Regions from separate parts of the Homo sapiens genome. Here region 2 is linked to region 1. The links come from fine-mapping of genetic effects on gene expression. A gene starts in region 1. The other region holds a variant in brackets. All regions are shown on one strand. Distances are from middle to middle.

Region 1 (11,674 bases):
TAACTTGAAAAAAAAATGTTCCATAGAGTAAACGTCACATACCAAGATTTTTGTCTTAGACTCTACAGACAGGGTATGATTTGACATTTAATTCTGTAATTACAGTAATATTAATTAACTTAATTTAAATAAGCTATCTTGAACTAAGGTTTAAACTATGTCTCCACACCTAACAGATATATATTACAGGGAAATACAATCAAACTAGTATTTTCAATGATAGTAATGGATAATGTGGTTGAGGATTTAAACTAGAGTGTTTTTAAAAAGCCGGGTGCAGTGGCTTACGCCTGTAATCCCAGCACTTTGGGAAGCCAAGACAGGTGGATCACTTGAGGTCAGGAGTTCAAGACTAGCCTGGCACGGCCGGGCGCGGTGGCTCACGCCTGTAATCCCAGCACTTTGGGAGGCCGAGGCGGGTGGATCACGAGGTCAGGAGATCGAGACCATCCTGGCTAACAAGGTGAAACCCCGTCTCTACTAAAAATACAAAAAATTAGCCGGGCGCGGTGGCGGGCGCCTGTAGTCCCAGCTACTCGGGAGGCTGAGGCAGGAGAATGGCGTGAACCCGGGAAGCGGAGCTTGCAGTGAGCCGAGATTGCGCCACTGCAGTCCGCAGTCCGACCTGGGCGACAGAGCGAGACTCCGTCTCAAAAAAAAAAAAAAAAAAAAAAAAAAAAAAAGACTAGCCTGGCCAACATGGTGAAACCCCATCTCTACTAAAAAAAATACAAAAATTAGCCAGGTATGGTGTTACACACCTGTAATCCCAGCTACTTGGGAGGCTGAGGCAGAAGAATTGCTTGAACCCGAGAGGCAGAGGTTGGAGTGAGCCGAGATGCACCACTGCACTCCAGCCTGGGTGACAGAGCGAAACTCCATCTCAAAAAATAAATAAATAAATAAATAAATTTTTAAACATTTTTAAAATTAAAAAATAAAAATAATGCAAGGGGCATCCCAAGGAGGACTGAGAATGGTGGCAAGAGGGAAATGGACTGCTTAGTGACCTCTAGGCTGGAGGAACAGTAGAGCAATAGAGCAGTGGATGTCTTCCAACTCTCTATTCAACAGCAGATTACCCAGGCCCAGAGTCTCCCGACTCCTAACCTAGTAGTAGGAAATGATCTAGGTAGGCTCATTCCTTGTCTGCATCTAACTGGGGTCCATTTGACAATACTAGGTGGCCTCAGAGCACTGGCACCAGGAATCCTGCCACAAGTTCCAGGTCTAAGAATGCTCCTTATTTCTGCAAGGCTGAAAGTCACTTAGAGACACTTCTCTAACCTAGAGGCACAACAGGGCCTGGCCTGGGGAGGCTTCTTCTTCCCCTTCAGGTGGCACCAGCAGCGTTCAGTGGGAGCCCCGGAAGCACCAGACAAACCAGGCAGACTAACAGCACCTCAAAGCCTCTAGAAATTAAATTGTCATTGAAACCACTGCCCACAAAAGTAGGCCAGGATCTGTGTGTTACCCTAAACAGAGTGATTATCTGTTAAAATACAAGATTTAAATAGAAACCCAGAGCCTTCTAACACAATAGCTAAAATGTCCAAAATATGACCACAACTTGAATGAGAAAAGACAATCAAGTGACACCAACAATTAAGTGAATCAGATGTTGGAATTATCTGACAAAGATTACAAAGCATTTATTCTAAAAATGTTGGCCGGGCGCAGTGGCTCACACCTGTAATCCCAGCACTTTGGGAGGCCGAGGCAGGTGGATCACGAGGTCAGAAGATCGAGACCATCCTGGCTAACATGGTGAAACCCCGTCTCTACTAAAAAATACAAAAAAATTAGCCAGGCGTGGTGGCGGGCACCTGTAATCCCAGCCACTCAGAAGGCTGAGGCCAGAGAATGGCGTGAACCTGGGAGGTGGAGCTTGCAGTGAGTGGAAATAGTGCCACTGCATTCCAGCCTAGGCAACAGAGCGAGACTCCATCTCAAAAAAAAAAAAAAATGTTTCAGGCTAGACACGGTGGCTCAAGCCTGTAATCCCAGCACTTTGGGAGGCTGAGGCAGGCAGATCATGAGGTCAGGAGATCGGGACCATCCTAGCCAAAATGGTGAAACCGCTTCTCCACTAAAAATACAAAAAATTACCTGGGCATGGTGGCACGCACCTATAGTCCCAGGTACTCAGGAAGCTAAGGCAGGAGAATCGCTTGAACTCAGGAGGCAGAGTTTGCAGAGAGCCAAGATCATGCCACTGCACTCCAGCCTGGGTGACAGAGTGAGACTCTGTCTCAAAAAAAAAAAAAAAAAAAAAGTTTCAGCAAGCAAATACAAATTCTCTAGAAACTAATGAAAAAATAGAATGTCTCAGCAAATAAGCATAAGCTGCAAAAAGAACCAAATGGAAATTATTGAGTTGAAAAATATAGTAATCAAAATAAAATACTAGATGGGCTCTGTAGTAGAGAAGACAGAGGACAGAATCAGCGAACTTGAAAACAGACCAATGAATGTTTTCTATTTGAACAAAGAGAAAATACCAGAAAAAAAAATGATGAACCAAGCCTCGGGGTCTTGTAGGACAACAACAAAAGATCCAACTTTCATATCATCAGAGTCACAGAAGCAGATAAGAAAGAGAGTGGGGCTGAAACACTTTTGTGTTTGAAGAAATAATGCCTAAGAATCTCCCAACTTGGTGAAAGACAAACCTACATTTTAAAAACTTCATCAAATCCCAAACAGAGCAAACCAAAAGAAATTCATGCCAAAACACATCATAATCAAACTTCCAAAAAATGAAGATATAGAAAATATTCTTGAAACTCTCCAGAGAGAAATGACGCATTGTGTATAAGGGAACGTCAATTCAAACAACAACAAATTTCTCATTGAAACCAGGGAGGCCTGAAATGAAGTGACATAACATTTTTCAAGTGCTGGAAGAAAAAGAAACTGTCAACTATAAATTCCTTCCACATATGCATCTTCTATATCATATTTGATGGTTGAAACACCACATTTCAAAAGACCAATGGATTAAAACTGGCAAAATGAATGTATGGGGTAAGAACATAGTCACAGGTGGGTTTCCCTGGCAAGCTAATTCTGAAATGAAGTTCAAAGCCCTATTTTCTTGGGAACCGCCTTGTTATCCACACCTGAGGAAGGATGGGGAAGGAAACAGAAAGGACCAAAGAGAGAAGTAGAGCTGCAATGCAAGCCCTCAGGGAGCTCCAGAGCTAGAAAGATCCTTCAGAGTTTTCCAGAGTTGTGCTGCAATGGCCCAACCTTTATACTCCCACATGGATCAGCCATTGGATGTGAGCTGCGCTGGAAAGGGGTGTGACCTTGGACAAGGGAGCTTTCTACAGCTCAGGCAATCCCTGAAGAGTCTGACTATTGAAGGCCATCTGTTGACCACACTCCCAGAAGCTGGGGCAACAAGTCCCTCCTTGAAGAACGATTTGGCACATCACAGTGTCCACTGTATTACCACATGGTGGCTACAATAGCCAGTGCCTGAAGGAACTCATTTGTTTTGTGGTCAGCAACATCCTAAACCTTGTCCAAACTATGCTGTTTGAAGGTTTTTGGAAATAGAAATGGGTGAAATTGTATGACATGATAATAAATTACTAACCACCAAATCTTTCTAACTGAAGACCTCTTCATATACCTCTTGCTCCTTAGCCAAATTAAGTCAAGTAAGATATTAGGAGTAACCTAGAACTCTTTATTTCTTCACAATTTTAAATATTGCATTTGTAAACCAAAATGGAATTATTATTTCTGTGTCCAGTATCTTTATCAAACAAGCCTTTATTTGTACATACACAGTAACTATTACTGTTAAATACTTAAATACCTGTCTCTAGACAGGCAAAGGACTCCAAGATCAGAAAACCATGTATGATTGATTTCTTATTCCTCAAATCAAAAAACAGTCCTATTTTGAAAGCAAACAGTATGTCTAACAGGTTACTCTCTAGAGAAATTTAAGACAATTCATTTTTGCAAAATATGTCAAGCCATAAAGAAACTGAAAAGCAAATCAGCTGATAAAAATACAAGTAGACACACTGCAACATTGTTTAGCTCCCAACTGTAACAAGAAAAATAGAAAGATGATAGATATATAGATAAACAGCCTCAATGCATCGATCATGCCATCTCATAAATTCCAGTCCATTTAACAATCTTACTTATTTTTTGTAAATTAACAAAATTGGCACGTTGTTGTTTAGAAAATGAAAAAGAATAGAAACAGCCAGCAAACATATTACAGTCAAGTCCTACAAGTATTGATTTGAAGAGCTGAAGAGACCAATGCTATATTTATTGACATTAAGGGGATTTCTCTCTTGGGATACCAAGAAATGAGGTATCCTGAGAGAGAAGAAGCTCAACTTCCTTTACCTGCAGTGAAATCATTGGCCTTATCTATCTTCTTGTGAATTCATGTACAGATAAATTCTAGACCCCTACCTACACTTCAGGTTGTAGGTAAAAACACTGAAATCTCCAAATTTGTTTCGTTTTTATGAATATAATTGGTATAATAACAGCTTTTGGCAAAAGGAAACGGAGGGGGAGTATGATCTACTAATAAAAATAGTATCTGGACATTTATTACTTTTTTTATGCTTAATGTGCCTTTCATTCTTATAACTTAGCCAAGAGTTTTCCAGCAGCTGGAAATCTTTGAAATTAAACGATGCATGTGATTCAAAGAACAGTTATATCTCAGATCTAAGATGCAGAATGCATAGAGTTACCATTTCTGTTCAGTGGCATCATATAATTATGATGTAAACCTAATGTAAGTACAATGTAATTTTAGGTGACCGTCTCAAAGTCTTGCTAAAAATTATCCCAGGCACGTGTGTGACACACACAGACACACACACACACATATATAACTACTGTAATTAAGAGCGATTCTTCTGTGCGCTCCTCCTTATACACGCTTTAAAGCTGTTGGCCATAGTGGGTTCCGATTTGTGTTTGAAGTACCGCACAAGGAAGGTGGCCTGTGAAAAACGGGAAGGAAGGAGGCAAAACAGGAAGATGGAAGAAGAGAGTAGGCATGAAGGAAAGTGACAGGAGAAAGGAGGAGAGCCTCTTCCTTCCCCAACACACTCTTGTAGCTAGAAAGGTCCAAGCCCCCTCACCAAACACCAGACAAATCTTCCCAAAAGTTCCTGGCAGAGCCTTGGTGATGCCGAGGCTTGAGTGCGCCCCTCCTTGGTGCCCCAGCCACCAGGGCACGCAGGAGCATCCTGGAGCCTCAGCCCAGCAAACTCTTGGGTAGTTCAGGTTCCCTTCCGCGCCCGCTGCCTGCAGTCAATCACTGGGCACCGCGCGCCCATCCGTCACCTACTCCAGGGCTTCCAAGCCCTGAATCCTTCTGCCTCTCTCCATTCTCCCTTAGCCTCTCTCCATCCTCTCCTCCCCAGTGACTTGTCAAGAGGTCCAAGGGCGGAAGCCGAAGCAGAGAAGATGAGGGCGAAAGGCTAGGGGCCGGTTGGCGGATTTCCTACAAGGGGCGACAATGACGCCGTCAAGACGACCATCCAGGCCCGGCGGCCCCATTCCCTCTTTGCCCCACATCAGCCCCACAGCACCCTACACTCTCCATTGAGGCTTCAGTGTGTGATGAAGTAAGAGAATGAGGAAAAATAAACCCGCAGCCTCCTAGGCAGCCCTTACCTCAGGCTGCCCTCGCAGAAGCCGCCCTCCTCCTGCCCGAGGCGCCTCTGCTGCACCGCCGCGGCCGCAGCGCTCTGGACGCCGGGGCTCCGCCCGGCGCGGGTAGACCATGCGCTGCGAGTGAGCCTTCCGCGCTCCCGGGGGTGGGGGACGAAAGTCTGCCCGGAGGGCGCTCGCGTGCAGCCCGGCCCGCGACGAAGAGCCTGCAGCCGCTGAGGCGAGGCCAGGAGCCCCGGGAAGGGGCGCGCGGGCCGGGGGCGCGCGCGCGGACGGGCCAGCGGGCTAGCCTGGGGAACCCGCGCCAGGGAGACACAGGCGCTGGCGACGCGCCCCTCAGCTCTTCTCTCGTCCTCTGGCCCTTTAAACCCCCTCTCCCTACTGTCCACCCCCGCCCCCCGGAAGAGAGACAGCTCGCCGGTGCCACTTGGTCTGCCGCGCTGCGCTCCTCAGCCGGGTGCGGGGAATAACAATGTGACCGTATCGCACGGACGAGATGCTGTGTAGTAGGTTGTAACTGCTGAGGCCACCACCTGTCAATTCTAGGGTGCAAAGCACGCCGTCCCCAGTCGTCTGGCCTCTCCCTGATTGCCCTCCCAGGTTATTTTTTCCCCCACCTACCTCACAGACCTCCTGCAATATTCCGCGGGCACGGTACCAGGGGAGTTTTGCAAAATAACCCTCTCTCCCAGCCGGGAGCTCACTGCATCTCCCTTACCACCAGAGCTGAAGGATTACGCACAGCCCTGCGTGCCTATCCAAAGCCAGAGACCGAAAATCCTGGTTTGAACCCCACACTCGCCGGCCCCCCAGCCCCCATTCATAATCCCAGCGGCCGTCTGCCACTACACACCCTCCCCCGGCCGCCCGCGCTCTTTCCCATTCGCCGTCCCTGGAACGTGTCAGTCACTCGCTGTGCATCTGCCATGAATACAAGACGAAGAGCTCTGCAGCTACTGGCTGCACAAAGAGGGACTGGGGCGCAGGGGACGCAGACCCCCGGGTTGGGGGAGGCGAGAGAGCCAGCGGGGCACATTACGTGGAAGGAGCCAGTGGGACCGTGGGAGTCCTCTGGTCTCCTGTTGCACAAAGGAGCGCCAGAGTGAATACGCGCAGTGCTCCTGAACCAACAGGTCAGATCACCTCCCAAGAGGTGCTCCACCAAGACACCCCTGAAGGTGAGTCCCACAACTTGGGAATTCGTGTGATGGAGCAACAGGCACTCAGTAACCTGACTGAGCCTGCTTTAAAAATGCAACAGGATGGAGAGAGAGCGAGAGCGAGAGCGAGAGAGAGAGAGAGAGAGAGAGAGAGAGAGTGTGTGTGTGTGTGTGTGTAGAGTGGGAGAGGTATGCTGGAAAGCACAAGTTTCCTTTTCCCCGGTTGTCCAGCCCTTTCAGTCAGAGAAAAAAAGAAGGAAGCTGGCAAGGAAAAGAGGAGGAAGATAGGCATGAAGTAACTTTGCCTATCCAACTACTACAGTAGCTAGAGACCAAAATGACTTTAATAGACAACATTCGCCTGTTTCTCGATTTATTCCAATAAACATCATGCACACCTACTGTGCACTGAGCACTTTGCAGAAGCTAAGGATGCAGAGTCGATTAGGACATAGTCTCTGCACCCAAGGAGCTCACTGCCTAATAGGAGAACCAACTATGAAAGCCCGAGACAAACAACACAAGTATTTCACAACAGAAGCACATGCCAATTGCATAAGTGGAAGCAATTTTTTCTATGTAAGAGAAGGAACAGGTCAGGGAATTTAAATCCCATCTGAACTGTGTATTAAAGGACAAATAGGGACCTCCCAAAGAAGGGCAATAACCTAATAACCTACTATTCACCCATTCACCCAAAATAGCTTTACATGCCTGTACATTGAAAGGCATGTCTAAGAGCTTATCAGTGTAGGAACTTAATGAACTTTCCCCTTCATGGTTTTGGAGGAAACATATTCAAACACTAGCGTTTGGAGTATAAAACACCTATTTCCCCACATCTGAGATGCTACCAAGTGTTCGCTGGTTATTCTGCCTTTTTGGACCTGTTGCTTACACTATACCATCTACCTCATCCATAACCTTGAAATTGAGCCCAAAGCCAAAATTAATAATAGTGAGGCAATAAGCACCTGAAAGGAAGCCAACAAAATCCGCAATGTAGTCATTGTTCTCACAGTTTTCATCTGTAAAATGATGATAATGGAATCTCTTTTTCTGAACTACAGTTAGGATTAGTTAGATGTATTAAATATAAGGCAACCATTGCCTAAAGAGAGTGTAAGGAATCTAAATTGTAGTTCAATCTAGGGGAAAAAAAGAACCAATTTGAGCATCATGCTGCCCCTTTTTGAATATGAGAAATTTGAAAGGTATTAATAATTACTAAGCCTCCCAAGGTTATTACATCATCTTCAGAAAAATGTGTCCAAAGAGTTCTTACTGCAAAAAGAATTATATACGGATTCCAGTAGAAAATGATGTCAGCTTTTTAAGCATCTTTCTCATCTCTTTCTAAAAATTACATAAACTAACAAAGAGAATGGAAAAAAACTGTCAAACACCATTTTCAACAAATTTATATAGATTTTACCTACAAACCCCAAAGCGCTTCTAAAGGTTACCAAAAGCAGCTGAGTTTGGGCAGAAGTCATATGGAAAAGGCCCAGGGAGAGGCAATGGGAACCAGCACTAGAAGTATCAGAAAGTGCCAGCAAAAGTATGTTTTCTGGGAAATGAGAGGTGTGTCGTAAAATGCAAAGCTGTCTCTCAAAAACTGGAGCAGAAGCAGAAGGAAGAAGGCAAAAGAGATACATACATACAGATGACAAAAGGAGAACAGGGAGTTCCCAGAAACATGGTAGGAGCAGATCTCAGGGTCAGCAAAACTTTAGTGCTTGAAGATGGTCAAATCACTATGAAATGTAAAAGTCCTGTTCCTTCTTTTTAAGAACTGGGGAGCAGAGAACTACTGGAAAAGGATCTTCTGGACATAATTCCCTTCAGAGTCTCAGAGGAAGTGAGTATACAAAGATGCCATAACTACTAAAAGCAGTCTGTTTGTGAGGCAACAGTAAAAGTGAATCCATAATCTATTGCTGCATAACAAGCCACCCGAAACAATGGTTTAAAAAGCTACCAGTGATTTGCCTACAATTTAGTGAGATGGAAAATTGGGATGGGCTCAGCTGTGTGGGCTCAATGGCTAATCTCTGCCCCATGCGGTATCAGCAGGTCTTACTCACAAATCTGGGCCTCTGGAAGGGATGGCTTGGACACCTAGGGCCTTTTCCCAGGAAGCTAGTCAGGCTTTTTCACATGGAGGTAGACATGTTCCCAGTAGCAAGAGAAATGGCAGCCTAGTGTTCATGCTGTAGTGTTCACACACTTTCAAGTTTCAAGCTTCTGTATGTGTTGTGTTTGTTAATGTCCCGTTGGCTAAAGCAAGTCATGTAGCTAAGTCCAGAGTCAATGTGGGAGTATTTTATGGGCATGGGTAGAGGGAGGTGTCAATTATTGGGGATCATTAAGTGGGAGCTATTTGTTTTGAGAACAGGAAAGCCACTTTGCAACCTCCACTTCAGGAACTTTCTCTAAGGAATTTGACCAGAAAAATAATTCATTCAATAGTGAGCAGTGATAAAGAAGAAACTGGCATAACACAGATACAGACATACTATTTTTAAAATTCAGAAAATTAGCATCAAAACTTTTTAATAGATGAGAGGAAAAAGTGTTGTCACAGAGACAATTAAAATTGTGACTATAAATTTCGAAATGCAAGAAAAAAACTAATAATACTTTAGCATAGTATTTACTGTTGCCAGGCAATATTCTTACCACTTTGTAGAGATATGAACTCAACTGATTCTCAACACAACTCTGTAAATTAGATATTGTTATTATTATTACCATTATATAGATTTAAAGACCTAAGGGACAAGTTAAGTAACACTCAAGATCACACAGTTAGAGGAAGACCCCGTATTTAAACACAGTTAATCTTGTTCTAGAGTCTTTGCTCTTATTCATAAGCAGCATAGTTTCTCTAAATTAAGCATATTTGTTGATATGTTAAGAAATAAACATCATCTATTAAGGAAAACCAAAAGGCACAAATGAAGAAACTCAAGAGAGAGATGAGGAGGATGAAATTAGTTGATTTTTTTAGCAGAAAGAAGAAGAAAAGCAAACCATGACAGAAATGAAGACAATATTGGAAGAAATACAAAAAAGGACTAAGTATTGCAGATAAGTAAGACATAGCAAATAAAAGTATTTGTGTGAAACTGATAATGATAGATGAAATACAACACACATATAATTGGAGTCTCTAAAGAAGAATGGGTGCAGCACACCAGCATGGCACATGTATACATATGTAACTAACCTGCACATGTTGCACATGTACCCTAAAACTTAAAGTATAATAATAATTTTAAAACAAAAAAAAAATCACCCAGAAAAAAAAAGAAGAAAACCTTATCAGTGGAACAGAGCAAATGTTTAAGCAAAATTTTTAAAAAACTTTCTTGAAACTGATAAAAAAAAGACTTCAATCTACATGTTCAAAATAAATACCATGTAGTAGAAAAAAATGATTCATGATGGTTGAACAAAGAAATATACTAACAAATTATTGAGTTTTATATATATGTAAGGAACCTTTGAAGCAGAAAAGAAAAAAAAATCAATTCTTGTAGAAAGAAAAAGAAATCAACCTACCCTCAGTCTTCTTGAAAGCAACATTCAAAGCCTAATGACAATGGGCTTTTGTTCCAATGAGAATGGAAACAAAACTTATTATATTCTCATGAAAAAAAATAATGATCTAAGGATTTTATATCTGGCTAGTTATTCATCATATATAAATGTCATATTTTTAAACATTAAAACTCAAAGAATATTCCTCCCATAAGGGGATATACTAGAATAAAAAAGGGAAAACTTTCTCAAAATGACTGGTGGTGAACACCAAATATATTTTTACTGTAAAACTAATACTACAAAAAATGTTTGAATGTTATAGGTTTTGAAAATATAGAAATGACACAAATCACAAATGTTAGGAAGGGAAAGAAAAAAGATGGTGGTAATTAGAATAAGTTCATTGACTGACTCACCTGTAACTGTTGAGGTTGAAAATGTCATTTAAAGCTGACATACAAGTAGTAGAGTAAGCACGCATAACATAAAAAGATAAACACTAAGAAATGTAATTTTTAAACAAAATATGACAGCTGATAAAATGCAGTATAGGAAAAAGAAGAGGATACATACCAATTTATCATTGCTCATAACTGTTATATCCAAAACAATAGAGAATATGAGTATATAAAGATGGAATTATAAAGGTAGCAGCTGGAGAGCAAATTTGCACCTTAGTGCACACCTTGTTAAATGTCAGAGGAACCATAAACTCATGCGCATGTGTATAATCACACACGTATCCATGTATATATCAAAGAATTGTGACAAATATTTTTCAATCAATACACATTTTAAGCTATTTTTTAAAAGCATTTTCAAATTGCATTAAAACCAAAACTCCATGCTATATATAAGTACACATTGGAAAAAAAAGGTTCAGATGGTTGAAAATTAAAGGAAGAGCAGAGTTTTACCCAAATAATGCCCCTGCACATTCCCCCCACCCAAATACATGGAAAAGGAATAATAATAATATAGCAGTACTTATGACTTTAATTTCAGACAAGTTGGACTCAGGACAAACAAGTATTAAATAAAACAAAGAAAAGCACTTTATGATAGAAAAAGTAAAAATCACAATGAAGATGTGAAATTTATAAATATCTATGAACCAAATACATAGCAGAAATTTGTATATACAAGTTTTATTACAAGAGATATAAAGACATATGGAAAGTAACAGACCAAAAATAGGACAGTTTTACTCATCTCCCTCAGTCAAACTCTACATATATCAGACTTTGTGCCTCAAAAGTAGAGATTACATATTCTTTTTAAGGGCTAATATTATA
Region 2 (8,000 bases), 530 kb before region 1:
TTGACAAAATATTTATGAAGGATATAGAGCAGTGATTAAAAGCTTGGTCTCTGGGGTTAGACTGCCTTGGTTCATATTCCAGTACCACCACTTACTGTTATAAAACTTTGTTACATAAGATGTTACTTCTCTGTGCCCCAGTTTCCTCATCTGTGTAATGAGAATAATAATAGTATCTATTTTAATGGGCTGTAGCATCTGGTTAACAAATAAATAAATGTAAAGTGCTTAGGACAGTGCATGGTACATTACAAGTACCAGATGAATGTTGGCTATTATTTATTGAATATGATACGATAAATAATTAATGAGTAAAATTTTTGAGTGCCTATTATGTTGTAGGCACATCATGAAACTCTAAGGGTATAGTGCTGAATATTAGGTTTTGCTTACTTGAAGCCTATATCCTAAGAGGAATAGAAAAATAATTATGCAAAAACTTAGTACAACTTGGAACAGAGATACTAAGAAGTGTAGAATGCTATAAACATTTATAATAGGGATAACCAGGGACCCAAAATCTGAAAAGTGGGATGTGAAGGAAGGCCTGCCTTGGAAAGTTATGAGATTTTGAGGAATAAGAATTAAGTGTCAAGGGAGAGGAAAGTATTCCAGGCAAGGGGAACATCAGAGTATGCTCATGAACGCAGACAGGGAAAGACTGATAGGAGAAGCTAGATCAAGTTATATACAGCCATGGAAGGCCATGCAAAGATCTTGTATTTTATTCTGGAAGCAACTGGAAAACTTGGTGGAGCTCTTTCAAAGGAGTGGCCCAGCCAAATTTGGATTTTAAAAAGATCCCTCTGGCTGCAATTTGGAGAATGAACTTGAAGGCAAGAATGAAATCTAGAGACTAGAAATATGAGGTTAGCTAAATAGTATTCAAGAGCCCCATATCTACAGGAAGACATACACGAGTTTGATATCTGGCTTTGCCATTTGAGTTACTCAATTTCTCTAAGCCTTAATTTCCTCATCTCTAAAATGGGGGTAAGCATATCTTGTGGGATAGTTATGAAGATTAAATGAGGTAAACCATACCAAAACACATAAAACATTACCTAGTAACCTAGTTAATTATCCATCCTAGTTGCTGGTAGCATTTGTTATGATCTAAATGTGTCCCCCCAAAATTCCTGTGTTGAAACCTACTGGTTTCAACACAGGAATTTTTTGCGTTCCTATTTCTCCACATCCTCTCCAGCATGTGTTGTTTCCTGATTTTTAATGATCACCATTCTAACTGGCGTGAGATGGTATCTCATTGTGGTTTTGATTTGCATTCTCTGATGACCAGGGATGATGAGCATTTATTCATGTCTGTTGGCTGCATCAATGTCTTCTTTTGAGAAATGTCTGTTCATATCCTTTGCCCACTTTTTGATGGAGTTGTTTTTTTCTTGTAAATTTGTTTAAGTTCTTTGTAGATTCCGGATATTAGCCCTTTGTCAGATGGGTAGAGTGCAAAGATTTTCTCCCAATCTGTAGGTTGCCTGTTCACTCTGATGATAGTTTCTTTTGCTGTGCAGAAGCTCTTTAGTTTAATTAGATCCCATTTGTCTATTTTGGCATTTGTTGCCATTGCTTTTGGTGTTTTAGTCATGAAGTCTTTGCCCATGCCTATGTCCTGAATGCCTAGGTTTTCTTCTAGGGTTTTTATGGTGTTAGATCTTACATTTAAGTCTTTAATCCATCTTGAGTTAATTTTTGTATACGGTATAAGGAAGGGATCCAGTTTCAGCTTTCTACTTATGGCTAGCCAGTTTTTCCAGCACCGTTTATTAAATAGGGAATCATTACCCCATTGCTTGTTTTTGTCAAGTTTGTCAAAGATCAGAGGTTGTAGATATGTGGTGTTATTTCTGAGGACTCTGTTCTGTTCCAGTGGTCTATATCTGCGTTCTGGTACCAGTACCATGTTGTTTTGGTTACTGTAGCCTTGTAGTATAGTTTGAAGTCAGGTAGCATAACGCCTCCAGCTTTGTTCTTTTGGCTTAGGATTGTCTTGGCCATGCGGGCTCTTTTTTGGTTCCATATGAGCTTTAAAGTAGTTTTTTCCAATTCTGTGAAGAAAGTCAGTGGTAGCTTGATGGGAATAGCACTGAATCTATAAATTACCTTGGGCAGTATGGCCATGTTCACGATATTGATTCTTCCTATCCATGAGCGTAGAATGTTCTTCCATTTGTTTGTGTCCTCTTTTATTTCTTTGAGCAGTGGTTTGTAGTTCTCCTTGAAGAGGTCCTTCACATAAACAAGGGGCCATCTTGAAGCAGAGAGTGCAGTTCTCCTCAGACACTGAACCTGCCAATGCCTTGATTTTGTACTTCCCAGCTTCCAGAACTGTGAGAAACAAATTTCTCCTCTTTGAAAATTACCTAATCTCAGATATTTTGTTATAGAAGCAAGAATGGACTAAGATGGCATTATGACTTCTTTATTACAGCAGTCTATGCTGGAGATGATGATAGCTACAACCATGTAATAGCAATGGAGATGAAGAGAGGTAAATGGATTTGAAACATTCATAAGTTAGAACCACATGGCCTCTAAGGTGGTGGAATTTGGTTGATGACCAAAATTCAAGTCACTTCAGCCTTTCAGGTCCAGAAATGTAATTTTGTTAGTGTATTTTGAGTTCATTCAGTTTATACTAGTTCAACTCACAAGAGCCCAGTGGCAAATCAGAGTCCAATGAATTAATAGAGAACAGTAATTTATAAAAAGCTTTTTATGTCTTCTGGTAATCACATGTTTCCCTATGTGGGAGGCCAAATTCTAACCATAAGATGGCTTGGTAAGCATGAAATCAGAGCAGGAGAACTAGTTGGATGGTTTAAATGGCTCCTTTCCTCAAGCCTGATATACTCAGCTCCCTTGCTGAGATAGATTGTATAATAGTTGTTTCTGCTCAAGCATTTCTATCTGCCTAAAATGCCTTTCCCAACTTTGTTCACCTGGCTAGCTCTTCCTTATCTTTTAGGATGCAGCCTAGTGTCATCTCCTCTACAAAGTTTTCTAAATATTCTGAGGTTGGATTAAGCCTCCTTCCTCTAAGATCTCACAACACCATATGCAAACCTCTATTTCCAAATGACCATATTTCATTACAAATATTTCTCTTGGTTTTTCTCATCTATTAGATTCTAACCTTCTTGAGGGTAGAGAATCTATTTTTTTAGTTTTTTGTGCATCAAGCATCTATTACCTAGTAGAAGCTCAGAAAATATTAGTTGAAATGTAGACATGCCCAACATATCAACAGATGGGCTATGCATTACCAAAAAGAAAGGGGCCTTTGCTACTGAACAGTATCAAAGACACAATGTCCAATACTTGTCCTTTGTTCTTTTTTTGCTAGTCTCCAAACAAATCACCTTCTTTTTACTGATTTATTCAGTGTTACCACAGCTAATCAGCTCTATCTTTCTTTTGCATTCATGTGTTGATTAGATTTCTAGGCTGGCTAGTTTTTATATGGGAAACATTTTGCCTCTCAATAGCACTTCTGCAAAATCACTTGCAGATTTGGATATTTAACTCTCACTGAGTACCCACATTCAGGCATCTTGTTGCAAGTCTCTGTGCACCAAGAGTTACTAGAATCCCACGTGGGTTTTTATAGCTGTCATAAGAAAGACACAAGCAAAGTTCAGAGGCTGCAGAGATAGAGTTCAAGGACATGAGGGAAAACGAGATCATGAGAGATTTGGAGGCCTGGTAAAGAAGAATGGGTGGAAGTTTGAGAGGTTGGAAAATGAGGTAAGGCAATGGACAGCATTAAGAAATATACCAAATTAGAAATAGGTCACACCATTCAGTGTTGTTTGGGTAGGACAAATATGAGAGTTCTAGTTGGTTAGAACATTTGATTTGAGTAAGTGGGTTGAGTAGGATAAACTTCCAAAAGTAGTGTGGTCAGGGCCAAATTTTGGAGAGGTTTTTAATGTTAGATTAAGGAATCTGACTTTATTTGGCAGGCAAGAAGGAACCATTGGAAACTGCTCAATGGAAGAATAGCATGCACAAAATGGCTTATAAATCCCTAAATACCATTTTATAGTTGTCTAATTCTTTGCAGTTATAGACCACTTTCTTATGCATTATCTCTTTTAATCCTCATCTACCTTTCGAGAGAGGTATTATTGTCTTTATTTTATAGAGGAAAAGCCTGATGAAGCTCAGGGAATTTTCATGTCTTCTGGTCACTACAGGCTTCACCTCAAATCCCATAACTAGAAAATGTAGAACCTGGAAACTTGAATCTAGGCTTTCTGACTCCAAGTTCAGTGCTCTTGATATATACAATACAATCTTTAAGAAGATGAGCTATTGCTCTGGTAGCAGAATTTTATAAAAATTATAAGAGTGCAGAGAATAAGCACTTGGTAAATTATTAACATCAGAGAATATCATTTGTAGAAAAAGATAGGAGCTTAAGAAGTAAGGAGGCCTCAAATTAAGATGTTATCAGAGGGAACACAAGGGTTATTTATCCCTCAATTTTATCTTTATTTGTAGAATGAAAATGGTCGAAGGAATTTCAAGAGTCAGTGAAGAGTAGAAGCAAATGTGTTTGCTGTTGAGAGTGAAGGTGCTGGGTGAGGAGGAGAAGAGGACTAAGAAATTTCCAACCTCTTGAAACACTACTAGCTAAAATCTCTTTCATCTGCCTAGAGGAGAGTGTCTCTGCCTGATGCTATCCTGAGTGATGTCTCAGATCACACACGACCTTGGATACATCACTTTATGAAAATCGCATTGTATTTTGTAGTCTAAGTGTTGTAAAGAGCAGAAAACCTGTTATATACAGTCTTTACCAGTTGACATGCGCTTTCAAGTTTACTGATTTTCTTCTGCAAACAAAGCCATT[A/G]AAGTTATCTCCATTTTTACAAATGAGATTATTGAGGCTCATGAAGGTGACATGACTTGCTTTAGAATCTGGAATGTCTACACTGTGCTATCAATATGGTAGCTACTAGTCACATGTGGCTACTGAGTACTTAAACTGTGGCTAGTCTCTGGTCAGATGTGCTGTAAGTGTAACATACATGCTGAATTTCAAAGTCTTTGTATGAAAAAATGATGTAAATTGCTCAATAAATGCATATATTTGATTACATGTTAACTATTTTGCATATATTAAGTAAAATATGTTAATAAAATTAATTACACCTGTTTCTTTTTATGTGTTTACTAGAAAATTTTAAATTACCTGTAGAGTGTTTATTATATTTCTATTGGGAAGCACTATTCTAGGTCATAAGTCTATAGCCAGGACGTGAACACTCAAAGGCCAGCATTCATTCCACCATAATTGCTTGTCTTAAAAGAGGTGGTAATAAAAATAATGATTTTTTGCTAATATTCAGTAACTTTCCAGAATCACAGACTTAGTGGATTCAGACTGAGGCAGTTTGCCTCCAGTGTGATCAGGAATGCCTTAGGGGCTATCTCAGTTGGGTGAGTCTCAAGGAGACATTTGGATTGGCTTAACTTTATTTTTGACCCACCATAAGTCAGGCAGTGTGTGAGAGACTATGTATAATATTTAATTAATCTTTGCCACACCCCCAGTAAATAGTTATTATCCCTGTTTTATAGATGAGTAAACTGAGGCTCAGAGAGGTTACATAATCTGCCCAAAGTTACAACACTAAGTATATATTAGATCGTGGTTTCTAATCCAGCCTGAATTCAAAGTTGATATTCATCACTATACCAGTCTATAGAAGAGGTGCATCTGAATCTCCTGGGGGTGATTCCCAGGCTAAACCCCAGATGTATAAAGCAGTCTTGGCAGACTGAGTTCTGGGAATTTGTTCTTTTTAGAATTGCTTCAGGTGATTTCCATCCTCAGCCAGGTTTGGCAATAACCACAATGAGTCCTTCAACATTTTTTTTCCTGGGAGTCCCACCTCCTCAATCTTGCCTAAGAGCTGATAAATTATTTTATTTTATTTTATTCTTTTAGAGACTGGATCTCACTCTGTCACCCAGGCTGGAGCACAATGGCGTGATCACGGCTCACTGCAGCCTCGAACTCCTAGGCCAAGTGATCCTCCTACATCAGCCTCCAAAGTAGCTGGGACTACAGGTGCTTACCGCCATGCCTGGCTGATTTTTAAATTTTCTGTAGAGATGAGGGTCTTGCTGTGTTGCTCAGGCCGGTCTCGAACTCCTGGGCTCAAGTGAGCCTGCCACCTTGGCCTCCCACAGTATTGGGATTACAGGTGTGAGGCACTGCACTAGGCCTGACTTAAAAAAATAATAATAAAGAAAAGAAATTTAAAAAAAAAAACAGTTTTTCTTTGAGGCACCCTTCAGTGGGACTGACCATTCATCCCAACAAGATCCCTGCTTCTCTCAAATCTTATCATCTACACCAAAATGTGGGGCCTGACAGTTTAATTAAGAAGGGATAAGCATAGATTTCAGAGATAAAACAGCCCTTCCTCCTAAAGACTTTCTTAGTAAGCATCTAAGCAGTCTAGGGCTGTGTCTGAAGTGTGCGGGGTAGGGTTTGGTGCAGCAGAGGTGGTGAGGGATGGAGGAAGGAACACTTTAGTAGGAGACTCACAGGCTCTTGAGGTGATTTATGGGGTTCTGGATGATTCAGTAAGAACCCCTGGATGTGAATGAAGACACTGAACAAAGAAAGCCAAGCAACTCTTTTTGGGTTGGGGTTTTCTGTGTGTGTTAGGAAAGATTAACAGTTATGATTTTTGCAGCCTCTGTGGGTAGACAAACAGTTGCTTTATGTGACAGATTCAGAACTTCCAATGAAATATAAAATTAGGCCTCAGGTTTCATGGCAACCCAACTCCACACAGTAGCAAACAAGAATTGTTTGAGAATGAGAGAAAGAAGCCAACACTGTGTATGTCACAGCTAGCTCACTTTCCTTTGGCCAATTTCTCCTAATTTAGCAGTACTTCCGTTCCGGCCCTAATTTCCCCTGGTTTGTAAACTACGTCACTTAACTGAACTCAGCTCCAGACTTTAGAAAAACAAAATTTTGTATTTCAGCTATGGTTTTCTTGGCATTTCTCCCTCTGAAGACTCTTACTGAATTCTGATTTTTCCTTTTTACCCTTGAAAGATTGTAGCTATCAGCTGTGCTTACTTTTTCCCTGTTGGTTCCTTTCTAATGCAGTGTCTAATGCAGTATAATGCAATGTCTGTTTAAATGTGATTAAAGATTTCAGTGTTTGGTTTAGACCAATATTTACCAGTGAAATCCTGCCAACATAAATGTGCAGGCTAGGTAGAAAATATTGGCTTAAATCAATCTCCCCCTGAACACACACATACAGACAGGACTGTAAATGTTTTGCATGTCACTTCTGATATTTTGGCCTCTTGTTGCCAGCTTCACACATATAACAACTAGACACAGATTCTGCAAAGTCTTAAAACTGGGATAATCTAGATTATAGATGCCTAAGGCAATTTTTAAAGGTTGTTTTCTCATTAGTGAAGGTTTGATGTTTTTGTTTTTTGTTTTGCTGGTTCTTCTGGCATTTACCATATAATATCATGTTATCTAGTTTGGAAGATTTCCTTGAATTATGTGAATTTGTATTATTTGAAATAGTAGTAAACAAGGGAATATTAATCTTTTAATGAAGAGATTACACTACAAAGTTCGTTGCAGAAACATACAGCAGACATTTTGAGATTGTTGAATCAGCCTTGCTGGGTGATTGCTTTAATTTAGCAATCATTTACTAAATTGAATTTACTCACTGATTGAACTTATTGAATGAATGAATTACTGCTACACTCTGACTGGATTTCAAATAGTTGTAGTTTGGATTAGAAATTATTTTTCTGAAACTGAATAGGCTAGGTAGCCAGCAGACAGAAGGCTCTAGCTGGTACCCAGCAGACACAGCCTCAGAAGAACACAGGAGGGTGGAGAGTGAGTGAGGTTTACGTGGCCAAGGCTCAGAACCAAGCCCTCAGTGAAAACTCTGAATTCCACAGTTCCCATA

The links. PIP is the estimated chance that this variant, and not a neighbour inherited with it, causes the effect. A credible set is the group of variants that fine-mapping cannot tell apart.
Region 2: its variant is the best candidate, but not a certain one, in a credible set for the expression of PDE4B in whole blood (INTERVAL, PIP 0.87).

What each region holds. Positions count from the first base shown.
Region 1 is chr1:65,787,248-65,798,921 of GRCh38, reverse strand. PDE4B (phosphodiesterase 4B) reads right to left here and starts at 6,027. Exons shown (of 17, transcript NM_002600.4): 1 at 5,674-6,027.
Region 2 is chr1:66,315,873-66,323,872 of GRCh38, reverse strand. The region is part of intron 7 of PDE4B (phosphodiesterase 4B); the gene reads right to left. Among named protein-coding and RNA genes, the nearest start is that of SGIP1, 210 kb to the left of the region's middle. The variant A/G (reference allele first, on the strand shown) is at 4,877.